Homo sapiens: one gene and its partner. Each later gene encodes a partner of the first gene's protein in a complex. Each region holds a gene or a part of one and is shown in the gene's direction. Other genes may lie near its edges.

Region 1 (7,149 bases):
CCTAGTTGCATGCAGCTTTCTGCGATCAGCTCCGGGTGCTCTATGGAGCAGCTTCGTTTTGCATTTAGATCCTTCAGTGCAGTTGGAAATGCACAGTGTATGTAGACCCTTCAAAACTCAAGCCCTTGATGATCTCTAATCCCTTACCTATGCTCACTATCTAATCAGGGCCAGTGTGGCTCCCTCAACTGCAGAGGCTTTGATTTGTCTGGGTGAAACAGAACCTTTGGCAGGTGGGATAAGAGAGATTTTTCTGGCTTGGGAAGAAGCTCAATGTCTTTGAATCACAAAGCAATGCTCTCCACATGCTTGATTCCATTTTGAACATGAAAACAATGTATGATGCAGCCCTTAAGGTCCAATTACAGCCGTCAGAAGAGGCTGTTTTATACATAAATTCACTCATACTCAATGGAATCTGAAACTACTGCACCAGCTTTGCAAATCAAAGATGTCTGCTCAGCTCACCCTTTCTGAACCAGAGGAGTAGCAAACTTTTGGTCAATGAGCAAATTGGCTGTAGCCCTTTTGCAGGAGAGTTTCCTGCAGAAGATATGGCTGGCATTCTACCAACCCCAGAGTCTGAAGGGTTTCCAGGAAGTGACCCCAGAAGCACCGTGTGGATGCAAGATAAAGGCTCCTTTATTTCAAGGAGGAATAAGTAACAACTATGATCAGAAAACGACAAGCTATTTGTATTTGAAGCAGCTGTGACAGCCAGCCATTCAACTTATGGCCCTCTGTGGGGAAAGGCAACAAGGTAGGAGTGAGAGAGAGGAAGAAAGACCCTCACAATGGCCCCCACAACCCAGGAGGGCCTGAACCACAGAGAACCTGAAGAATCACTAATTGTATAGTTAGCGAAAAGGCTAATCCAAGAACAGAAAACCAAATAACGCATGTTCTCACTTATAAGTGGGAGCTAAATGATGACAACACATGGACAGATGGATGGGAACAACACACACTGGGGCCTGTCAGAGGGTGGAGGGTGGGAGGAGGGAGAGAATCAGGAAGAATAACTAATAGATACTGGGCTTAATACCTGGGTGATGGAATGATCTGTGCAGCAAAACACCATGGCACACGTTTACCTATGTCACAAACCTGTACATCTTGTACATGTACTCCTGAACCTAAAATAAAAGTTGGAAATAAATTTTTTAAAAAAATAAAGGGAACTTTTGATATATTTCTATCTGGAGCCCAAAACCTTCAATTCTAGAGAACTAGTAGAGAAAGTCTTAGTGGCCTTCAGAGCCCCAAATCACAGTATGAAATTCCTGGAAGGCCTTCTTTAGCAGTTGCTAGAAGCTTAAACTCGGACAGTCCCTACTGCTCAGGCATTCTAGGAGATCTGTGTTGATAAAAAATAAAACTCTTATCAGAGTTCTCCTCTCTAGCTCATGGAAAGGTTCAAGCCTTTCTGATGTGGAGCTGTTGACTTTTATTATCAGTATGAACAAATAATGTTATTTAACAATTATTATTTGCCACGTACTGTGCTAAATCCTATTTTACAGATATTGCCTCACAAATACACTTTATCATCAAAATGGATAAGGAAACTGGTTTAAACAGGTTAAATAATGTGCCCACAGCCACACAAATAAGGAGAGCCATACTTTGTACCTAGGTCTTAATCATACTGTGCTGCTCTTCGCCTTTATATTACATTCTCAAGCTTTTAAAAAGCTCTGACATTCAAGGGATGTGGTCAGTAAGGGTAGACACGTGCTCTGTTTTGCCTAATTTATGTCTGATGCACAATAAGAGAGGCTGTGGATTATGAGCAGTCCTTGGTGGTGGCTCCAACATTCCCTTTTTTTGCCTACTCAAGAGATTAGAAGGAAATGTGAGCTAAGGCACACAGTGTTACTACAGGGCTAACCCTGAATCCCTTTTAATTTATAAGAAACAAAAATCACTAACAAACTTCAGTACAGTGTTATTATTAACCATCTAATGTGAAATGTTACAACTATGACATATCATGTTTGAAAATCACTGTTCTATACTGATCCAAAGAAACCTCTCACCAGGATAAATGAGTAACCATTGCAGCAGATTGGTTCAATTCCCAAATCATTTCATACGGGGTCTCACAGTCACTTAGGCCAAAGCAGAATGGAATGCAGTCAAAGAATTCCATATGTGCTCTATGGAATTTAGAACACACAGTGGTTCCTAAGAATACATGTTTTTTTCAATATTTCCTAGCTCCCATGTGCTGATCACACTACAGCATCAAGCTATTAAGAGAGAAAGGGGAGGGGCAGGAGAGAGAGAGAGGTTTCTCCCAGAAATATAGTTTCTACATTTTTAACTTTCCTGATACGATTCAAAATACATGTGTAAGAGCTTCTGCACAGCAAAAGAAACTATCAACAGAGTAAAGATAATGGGAGAAAAATATTATCAAATTATGCATCCGACAAAGGTCTAATATCCAGAATCTAGAACTTAAACAAATCAACAAGCAAAAACCAAATAAGCCCATTAAAAAGTGGGCAAAAACATGAACGGACACCTCTCAAAAGAAGACATACAAGTGGCCAACAAAAATATGAAAAAATGCTCAACATCACTAATCATCAGAGAAATGCAAAATTACCATCACAATGAAGTATCATCTCGCACCAATCAGAATGGCTATTATTAAAAAGTCAAAAAATAAAAGATGCTGGTGAGGATGTGGAAAAAAGGGAATGCTTTTACACTGTGGTGGGAATGTAAATTAGGTCAGCCAAAATAGAAAGCAGTATAAAAACTTCTCAAAGAACTAAAATAGAATTACCATTTCATCCAGTAATCCCACTACTGGGTATCTACCCAAAGGAAAAGAAATAATTCTATCAAAAAGACACCTGCAGTTGTATGTTTATTGCAGCATCATTCACAATAGCAAAGTCATGGGATCAACCTAAGTGCCTGTCAGTGGTGGATTGGATAAAGAAAATGTGGTACATTCAGACCATGGGATGCTACACAGTCATAAAAAATAATGAAATCATGTCCTTTGCAGCAACATGGATGCGGCTGGAGGCCATTATCCTAAGTGAATTAACAGAGAAACAGAAAACCAAATACTGCATGTTCTCACTTAAAAGTAGGAGCTAACCACTTGGACATAAAGATGGAAACAATAAACACTGGGAACTCCAAATGTGGGGAGGCAGGGAGGATGGCGAGGGTTAACAAAGTACCTACTGGGCATTATGTTCACTATTTGGCTGATGGGTTCAATAGCAGCCCAAACCCCAGCATTATGTAATATACCCACATAACAAACCTGCACGTGTACACCCTGAATCTAAATTTTTTTTTAAAGGTGCGTGTGTGCAAACACACAGCTACATAGGATGCTATGATAAAGAACTCAGAAAAACCTTCTGGCAGCCACTTGCCGATCTCTTCTCTTGGCAAGGTCCTGGGTCTTAGGTTAGTCAGTCCGTGTGAGGATGCCAAAGGTGGTGAGGACAGCTAGTCACGGCTAAGGATTTTCTGAAGGGCAGGAAAGAAGTGGAATAGGGAATAGTCTATACTAGTATCCATAGCTCTCTAAAAATAATCCTAGATTTGCTCCAGGACAGATTCATATTTTCTGTTTTTCCCTAGGACCACCCTTGCTGTGAAAGCACTTCAGACTAAAACAGGCCCTAAAGACATACCAGGTGGAGGAAGCCTTAACCTCCCAGAACTTGAGTCTGGAAGGAGAGTGGGTCTGAGATCTGATCCTTTGCTCCCCTCCAGTCAGTAAGCATCACTTCCAATAGTCAGGGACCCACTGATGTTTGGTTTCACTAAAGCTGTCTGTGGGTGGACTGGAGAGCAGAGCTAGGGTAAGGGGGACAGGGACTAAGGAATGAGGACATTAAAGAAATGCATATACCAGTGGGCACTTCACCCATGGCTGGGGTTCAACATGCAGCTCATTTCGATTCTGTCCCATCACACTGCATTAAATGAGTAGTCTCCCTGTTCACTCACTGTTTTCCTTATCTTATATTAAGGAGTCAGCATTCTCACTTTCCTTTTTCTTGTTATTTTCTCAAACCCCCACTACTTGCTAATTGTTTTATGTCACAATTACCATCTAATTTACCCTGGCTTGTAGCTGACTGAGCAACCATAGGACTCAATATTTACACTTTCCCAGACTTATCATTAGTAGTACTTATCCTCTTACCAGTTATCTAGAGCCGTCAAAACTGTTGCTCTTCTGACATTAAGGTAAGATGTAACTTGGTGAATGAGGATTTGCAAATCTTTTACTCCCTAAAACAAGCATTTCCTTTTCCTATAGGTCAAGATCATTGTTGCCTCTAACTGTGCTACTCTTGTACTACAGTCAACATCAGTGGCATTGAATGATTATGAACAACTGTGAACTGCAGTGTGTGTCCAGAACTCTGGTGTTTGGGAGGCAGGGGGCAGGAGGGTGTTGGAAATAGGAACATAAGAATGCCCCTTCTAGACCAGCAATCCAGCAGAAGCCAAGAGGGTTAAAGGACTTCCCTTCTTGGTGTAAGCTGCTGAAATCTCTCGTTTGAGCTATTCATGATGAGTTTCAGGGAGATGCAAAGAAATGTAATAAACTCTTAAGTAACTTACTACCTTCTTAAACAAAAGGAAAATAACAAAGTTTAAAATTATAAATAATTAATGCCCTGAAGCTATGTAATAGAAAGAAATTAATTCTATGATCAACTTCCTGTAGATGTTTAGAGGAGGAGAAGACTGGGTTTGAGCCATTTCCAAGGAGGCTGGATTGGTTTGGAGTTTTGAAAAATGGATAATGTTTAGACTGATAGAGATGGGTGAAGGGTAATGATGGAGCCTTGCTGTTTGTTACATGAAACTGATGGTGCTAATGTTATATGCCTCAACATTTGGTATTATATTTCAGTAAGTCTTAAGGGGAAAAATGTTCAGAAAATGTGTTGAAAGATATGATAATCTCACCTTTATAGAATTGAAAAGGGAGAAATATCATTAGGAGAATAATGTGGGAAAAGCAAAAGATATAAACCCACTACTTTTGCATAGTAATGTTCTACTTTGAGGATATGTAAAGATTATATAAGAGGTTTAAAATGCAGGCTAGCACCTTAAAAAAAGATTTAAAAAATTAACAGAATGCAAAACATTATCTTTGACAATAAACTTACCATTTTCAAAACTGAGAATAAATATTTCTCTGAAGAGAATAAACTTGTTTGCCAAGTTTTAGTCCATAGGGATTGGTGGCTCCAAACTAGGAATTAGTATATGATAATTGCTTTTACTCAATTTGTTCTTTAAGTTTGTAGAAGTTTTGTGTGAGAGCCAATAATAAGCTAAAAAGCAATGTGCTTAGAGGCAGAATTAGGAATGCTTTGGTTACCTCCCTGTTAAGTTTGGTTACAATTATTTTAATACATCTAAAGTTTGATTTAACTGAAATAGCATTTTAAACTGTTATCTCTATGTTGTTGGTTTTTTTTCTTCCTATTTCATTGCCTTACCTGAACTCATATGGCCATTCAGCACAAACTTAACTCGAAGTGTATGGTAATGCCAGCTCCATATCAATGACTCAGTTTCCAGACTTTTGCAATTAATAACTCAAGGTAACATACGGCAAGAGTGGGGAAGGTAGTGCCTTCATGGGTAAACATCATAGTTACTCATTTCTAATCGTACAGAAGTGGTCAATTACTCATCTCCTCTTTAGTACTAATCTCGTGATTCAAACCAACTTTCTAGGAAAGGAAATTCTTCCTTCTGTCCTCAAAATGGCTTTGTTTTCAAGTTAGACCTACTTTTTTTCTGATGCATTCTTTACTTTCTTGTTTCCTGCTAAGAAAGACTATAACAGTATTTTTTAATACTGTGTTATAGTGTTGTGACACCTTTGAGTCACAAACCTTCTCATAAAAATGTGTATTATAGACAAAACTGCATGAACTTTCAGGGAGTTCATGGACCTCCCTGAAGTTCATCCATGTAGTCAAAAGGGATCTGTGAACTCTGGGTTAAGAGCTCCTGGCCTGGTGCATGGTCAGCCTTCACAGGTAGGCTGGTTAGGTTACTCCCTCATCAGAGAAACTAGAAATACCAAGGAAGGGGCTTACTTAAAGCAGTATAAATAAATAGAGGCCTCAGTGTTCCTCTTCCATGGCCATGTGTAGTTTCCTTACCCATTCACTGTATCTGTTAATTTCTGAACTGGCTGAATCAGAGTTACTGAGGCTTTGGGACCCTGTTTATTTGTACACTTACCCATATCCTCACTCTCAGCAAGGCAAGAGAGGTCTCATGTGAATTCAGATTGTGACAGTGAATTCCCTAACTCCAAATTTGGTTGAGTTTGAAAATTTTGCACTAGGGGTTACTTCTGCAACTAGCTAATGCTAAGCACTGTTATTACAGGAAGGCAGCTCAAAGAATGTCATCTAAAGTTCAGCAGCAGGAATACAACACTAATGACCCTCCACGTTGGTTTGGCTATGATAGGGAAGGAAACCCTGTTACAGAGCTTGACAACATAACATCATCTAAAGGAGCCTTAGAATTAACAGTGAAAAAGTCAACATACAGCAGTGAAGACCAAGCAGCGTGACCTTCAGCCTCAAGCAGGAAGAACAAAAAATCAAGAACTTGGCAAGTTTTCTCCATTTGTTGCAAGTATGTTTACTAGCTGAATCTCAATAACAATGTAAACAAGCAACAAACCATCTTCTGATTCTTATTCCAACTACAAATATTTCCAAACACATCAGTAGTTCTTCTGTCTAAATAATCATGATTTAAAAAAGAAGCCAGGCCAGGAGCGGTGGCTCACACCTGTAATCCTAGCACTTTGGTAGGCCAAGGCGGGTGGACCATAAGTCAGGAGTTCAAGACCAGCCTGGCCAACATGGTGAAACCCCATCTTTACTAAAAATACAAAAATTAGCCGGGTGTGGTGGTGGGCGCCTGTAATCCCAGCTACTCAGGAGGCTGAGGCAGGGGACTTGCTTGAACCTGAGAGGCGGAGGTTGCAGTGAGCCTAGATCACGTCACTGCATTCCAGCCTCGGCGACAGAGCAAGACTCCGTCTCAAAAAAAAAAAAAAAAAAAAGAAGCCAAATCAAGTACTGACTACACAAAATTTCTGCCTAAATT
Region 2 (5,781 bases), on another chromosome or scaffold:
CGCTGCTCAGGGTGTTCACTTTTTTATAGTCTTCAACAAAGTCTAGATTTTTTTAGAATGCACAATTAATAAGTAGAAGAATTAGGAGATAAAAAAGAACAGTTTTACTGGCTGGCAGGTAGCTGGCTCCAAGGCCGTGCTCCAGATCCACCATTTGTGGGGCGGACAGCACATGTGATGCCAGGATCTGGGGCTGGCCAAGGGAGCATATCCTCCAAGGGGCCCCACCTGCAAGCTCGGCCTGCTGGATGCCCTGGATCTCAAATCTCACCTGAGCCCACAGCCCTCACTCGGGCAAGACTGGCCTCGGCCACCCATGAAGCAGCTTTCAGGGTGGGGCTGCTTCAGCTCTTACCAGGACACTTATGGCTTCCAGAGACACCTTCCTGAGAGAAGGGCTTATGCTGATGTGTTCCTCCTGCCTTCCACTGCGTGGATGGCTCTACAAAGGGCCAGGGCGCAGGCAGTGTGGACAACACACTGACCCCGGTGCTGTGGGAGTGGGCACTGTTGGGAGGCAGCGTGTTCCAGGCAGGTGCAGAGGTGGGAGGCAGCATCTTCCCAGCGAGATGTCCCCAGGTGAGGGGCCTCATCGCCCACCCCCAGCGCTGTCCCTACAGGTGCAGCAGGAGCGGGACGAGCTCTATCGGAAGTTCACCGCAGCCATCCAGGAGGTGCAGCAGAAGACAGGGTTCAAGAACCTCGTGCTAGAACGCAAGCTGCAGGCTCTGAGCGCCGCTGTGGAGAAGAAGGAGGTGCAGTTCAACGAGGTCCTGGCTGCCTCTAACCTGGACCCTGCAGCCCTGACGCTGGTGTCCCGCAAGCTGGAGGTAGGCCCTAGACAGGCTCCTGACCCCAGTGGGCGGCCTCATCCCTGTGGCAAGAGTCTTCAGTTCTGTGCTGCTCCTCGGATAGGCACAGAGACCCCTCGGTCGGCCACTGAGGAGGGGCATTCATGGGTTTCCTGTGGCCAGTTTCGGGCCAGTTGGGAACTGTGGAAGGGCTGGGCAGGGGAACCAGATCAGGGCCCACTCTGCTATTGATGGGGAGCACAGGGCTGGAGGGGGCTGGTTGGGGCCAGCACAGAATGGGGACGGGCAGAGGGTTGGAGAGCCGCCAGGAGGCTGAGTCCACAGGTGGGGCTGGGAGGGGCCGAGGTGACTTGGTGTTTGCACATGGGGGAACGACGGGTCCCGGCCCAGTGGGCGGTGGTGCCTGTGGGACCCTGGTCATCTGGGATGGCCTGGCTCTCAGGGCCTGAGGTAGTGAGGCTGTATAGGAGGGGCCTCACCTGGGCCAGAGGCACTGTGGCCCCGGGACTGAAAACTCATCTTTGTTTGCTCAGCACTGGGCCCAGTGAGCACAGGCAGGTGAGGGAGTGAGGGTCCCACTGTTGGGAGGTGGGGGAGGCGTGTTTCCAGCTCCTGGCTGAGGGCTGCACCCAGCCTGCTGCTAAGCCACCGAAATGAGGGTGAAGAGAGCAGTCGTGGCCTGTGAGGGTCATTGCAGCTGCGCCCACGCGCCAGGGTGAGGATGGAGGATGGAGCTAAATGTGGGTCAACCCCTCCTTTCCTGGTCATTGTTACCTCGACTTCTAAGTGAGGAATCTTCTGGGGAAATGACAGAGGCCCCCGCAGGGACACTGTTTGCTGCTGGCCAGGTGTGAGGGGGCTGCTGTGTCAGTGGGCAGCAGGGACGGCTCTAAAGCCAGGCTGGGCCCAGCAGTGCCCCACAGGCAGGAGCCCAAGAAGTCCCTGCCTCGCCACGTGGTGAGACCCTTGCCCACATCTGGGCGGGGCCAGCGCTGCTGAAGACTACTTTTTTCTGTTACAAAAAAGTGGGATAGCCGGGCGCGGTGGCTCACGCCTGTAATCCCAGCACTTTGGGAGGCTGAGGTGGGCAGATCACGAGTTTGGGAGTTCAAGACCAGCCTGGCCAAGATGGTGAAACCCCGTCTCTACTAAAAATACAAAAATTAGCTGGGCTTGGTGGCGGGTGTAATCCCAGCTATTTGGGAGGCTGAGGCAGAGAATTCCTGGCACCTGGGAGGCGGAGGTTGCGGTGAGCCTAGATCGCGCCACTGCACTCCAGCCTGGGCAACGGGGCGAGACTCCATCTCAGAAAAAAAAGTGAGATAGTACATTCACAAGCCTCAAGAAATTTAAGCAATATGTAGGTGGTGTTTAGTGACCAGTCTCCACAGTGTGGCTGCACGCTGCCTGCCCTCACCTCATCTGCATTTCTTGTGGTCTGGACTGCTCTTTGAGTTTTTTCTTGAGACGGTGTCTTGCTCTGTCACCCAGACTGGAGTGCAGTGGCTCAATCTCGGCGCACTGCAACCTCCGTTTCCCAGGTTCAAGCAATTCTCATGCCTCAGCCTCCTGAGTAGCTGGGATTACACAGGTGTGAGCCACCGTGCCCGGCTACTTTTCGTATAGTAGAGACGGGGTTTCGCCACGTTGGCCAGGCTGGTCTCAAACTCCTGACCTCAAGTGATCTGCCCTCCTTGGCCTCCCACACTGCTGGGATCACAGGTGTGAGCGGCAGTGCCTGGCCTGGACTGTTGCTGGAGAGGCAGGTTGTGCAAGCTCCCAGTTCTCTGCTTCTTCCTTGTTTTCTCTCCACCCTTGGAGACCTTTTTCTGCTGACAACCCTGTGTGGATGGATGCATCCATCAAACCAGGCTGCTATTCGCTGGATCTCTCAGAACGCCCACTGGAGTCCCCAGGCCGCTCCCGTTGCCTCGGCCAAAAGATGAGTCTCAAACTCCCATCACCTCTCTCTCCTCAGGATGTTCTTGAGTCGAAGAACAGCACCATCAAGGACCTGCAGTATGAGCTGGCCCAGGTCTGTAAGGTACGGCTGTGCCCTGCCCTCCCTCAGGGGCACCCCCTCGGTGCCCAGACTGTTCTAAATGCAGACGGTCTCTGAGGACCCCACCTGTGCCCACTTCGTACCTCGTTTGACAAGGCAGCTGTCACTGTCCCCACGTGAGGGTGCAGTCATAGCCGAGAGCATCTGGATTCTGTGTGGTCTGGGGCAGTGCACTGCTGTCTAGGCCATGTCTCTGCTGGGATGGGTGTAGGGGGGGACCTGGACGCTTCCCTGGTCAGCCCCTTCCCCTGGGCAGGGAGTCAGAAGGTGCTGTGCCCACCGGGGAAGGAAACAGACGTCATTCAACAGGGGAAGGGAGGGCGTGAAGAACCTGAGTGGGAAACACCCAGCCAGGGCCCAGAGCCCTCCCAGACCACAGCTCTGCCCTGAGTGTCCCTGCCCTCTGCCTCCGTCTCGTCATTTGTGGAATAGGAATAGTGACAGCCTCTCCCTGTCGTGCTACCTGAGCCAACGCAGTGAAGGTGCTTGGAGCTGTGTCCCACACGGGAAATGACTGATAAGCCTTTGGCTTTATCCTTCTGCACCGTGATGCTCACGCTGCCCCTCCATGGAGCTGCACTCAGCTCTGGTGGTCCTGAGCGTGGGGACCCTCAGCTCCCTGACACTGCCCTGTCTCCACAGGCCCATAACGACCTGCTGCGCACGTATGAGGCAAAGCTGCTGGCCTTCGGGATCCCTCTGGACAACGTGGGCTTCAAGCCCTTGGAAACAGCTGTGATCGGACAGACACTGGGCCAGGGCCCCGCGGGACTGGTGGGCACCCCGACGTAGCTGCCCCCCTGGGGGGCCACAGCCCAGAGAACCAGCCTAGGAACACTCGGGATGACACCCCTTATCACACCAAGGACAGCAAGTTTTTTAGATTTTATCATCAGCAAATGAAAGCTTTTCACATGTTCTTGCCATCCTCTTTCCTGGCTCTGTGGAGGAGAACCACCTGCAGGACCCTCACCCATGGTGTCCCTGTCGCTCCCTTCCCTGGGTGCCGCACGTCCAGCCTGTGTCCAGGCCTACTCCCTGGTCTCACCTCCGACCACAGTCGGCGGCACCTTCTCAGAGTGCCCCGCACTCACCTGGGGGTTGGGGCAGTGCCGCGCTGTGCTGCCTGTCTTCGCGCCACTGTTGTCCCACCGAATGGACAGCTTTGCAGGTGCTGGCACTAACTTCATTGACACCTGAGTCACAGCTGCCCAGTGGGATTCTCCAGGGGGCCGGGACTTCCCTAGGAAGTGGTGAGCCAATGCTCCCTGATGAGCACAAAGCCCGCTCTGTTGAGGGCTGGGTGGGTGCAGCCAGCGTGCGGGAACGGGCAGGCAGCCTCCCGCTGCCAGTCTTCGCTCTAACTCCCTCGGTAGGTGATGTAGGACCAGGGGCACGTGGAACTTCTGGGCCTTGCTGGTGATGGTTAAAACAACCTGAGATGGAGAGGCCAGGAGAGAGTATAAGGGGATAGCAGCAAACCACCTATCTGGCCCCAACACACCTGAGAGAATTCAGCAGCCCAGACTGAGGGTCTGGGATGGGGTGAACCTTCCGCACCAGAGGGACACTCCACAGAAGCCACAGCCCAGTAAGTCAGGCGCTTCTGCGGCGGCTCCAGTGTGGGGTGAGGCAGTGAGGTTAGGCCCAGAGAGCTGGAGTTGGCTCAGATGAAAACCTCTGTCAACAAAGAGGGGATGAATCACCCTTGGCCCAGCCTCCCCACAAAGCCTGACCCTGGGCAGGTGAGTGACGGGTGTGTCCTCGTAGAGTCTATTGCTGCCTGGACACCTTTCTTTTGGGAGCTCAAAGCAAGTGAGCTCACCTACCTGCCACCGCCCAGGACCAGTCTGCCCACTGCCTAAATGATGCCCGGCCAGCAGGACCTGGCCTGCAGATCCCAGTGAGTCATGAGCCTCAGCCCCCTCCAGCCCACTGGGGCTCTCACCTCCACATGTGGGTAGAAGCTTTCCTGCCCCCTCTTCCTCCAGTAGCCCTCAGTGTCGAAGGTGAGCTTGTAGGTGCCTGCCTTCATCTGGTCCAGGACAGTGACCATCTGGGTCTGTGTAGCTGGGGAGAGGATGAGGCTGCAGAGATGGGGACCAGAAGCCCCCCACCCCAGCTTTCCTGGGTCTGCATCCCAGTGGGCCTCAGACACTGCCCTGCCACCTGTCAGACTTGGGTGAGCAGACACAGTGAGGCTGTTAGGTCCTGCAGTTCCAGAGCAGTCTAGGGACACCACTGCCCTGTCTTTAGGAAATCACAACACAGAGAAGCAAAAAGGGAAAAAGTCTCCCACAATTTATCCCATGAGCAAGAACCACTTTATAGCTGGCATATATTTTTCCAGATTTTCTCTATGCATAAGTATATTTGTTTAAAAACTTATAAAGTGGATTATACTATTTGTATTGTTTTATAACCTGTGGTTTTCACTTAAAATATTGTGTATGGCTGGCTGGGCGTGGTGGCTCACACCTGTAATCCCAGCACTTTGGGAGGCTGAGACAGGCGGATCATGAGGTCAGGGTATCGAGACCATCCTGGTTAACACGGTGAAACCCCATCTCTACCACAAAAAAATTAGCTGGGCGTGGTCACGGGCACCTGTAGTCCCAACTCGGGAGGCTGAGGCGGGAGAATGGCATGAACCCAGGAGGCGGAGGCTGTAGTGAGCCGAGATCGTGCCACTGCACTCCAGCCTGGGCGACAGAGCGAGACTCCATCTCAAAAAAAAAAAAAAAAAAAAAAAAAAAGTGTGTGGCTTTCTGGGTCAATAACTACCAAACCTTCACCCACAGAGTGGGCCTGTCCAACTCCACGGAGCGTCTGTGTTGTGTGCCCTGGTCCCTTATCAGGGTTCTGAATAACCGTGGCTTTGCCCATAGTCACTTCTGGAAAACCTCC

Evidence for each region. The genes of interacting proteins can lie anywhere in the genome.
Region 2: FBXL13 (region 1) and DRC4 share a complex: the UniProt entries of both Homo sapiens proteins name them as parts of the nexin-dynein regulatory complex.

Annotation. Positions count from the first base shown.
Region 1 is NC_000007.14:102,812,797-102,819,945, reverse strand, and holds part of FBXL13 (F-box and leucine-rich repeat protein 13), read left to right. Parts: intron 1-3,618; coding exon of another isoform or gene 3,619-3,760; exon of another isoform or gene 3,761-4,295; intron 4,296-4,306; coding exon of another isoform or gene 4,307-4,370; exon of another isoform or gene 4,371-5,529; coding exon of another isoform or gene 5,530-5,557; exon of another isoform or gene 5,558-6,414; coding exon 6,415-6,604; 3' UTR 6,605-7,149. UniProt on the Homo sapiens protein: Substrate-recognition component of the SCF (SKP1-CUL1-F-box protein)-type E3 ubiquitin ligase complex.
Region 2 is NC_000016.10:90,039,680-90,045,460, forward strand, and holds the end of DRC4 (dynein regulatory complex subunit 4), read left to right. Parts: intron 1-81; exon of another isoform or gene 82-620; coding exon 621-830; intron 831-2,790; coding exon 2,791-2,856; intron 2,857-3,222; exon of another isoform or gene 3,223-3,516; coding exon 3,517-3,666; 3' UTR 3,667-5,281; downstream 5,282-5,781. UniProt on the Homo sapiens protein: Component of the nexin-dynein regulatory complex (N-DRC), a key regulator of ciliary/flagellar motility which maintains the alignment and integrity of the distal axoneme and regulates microtubule sliding in motile axonemes.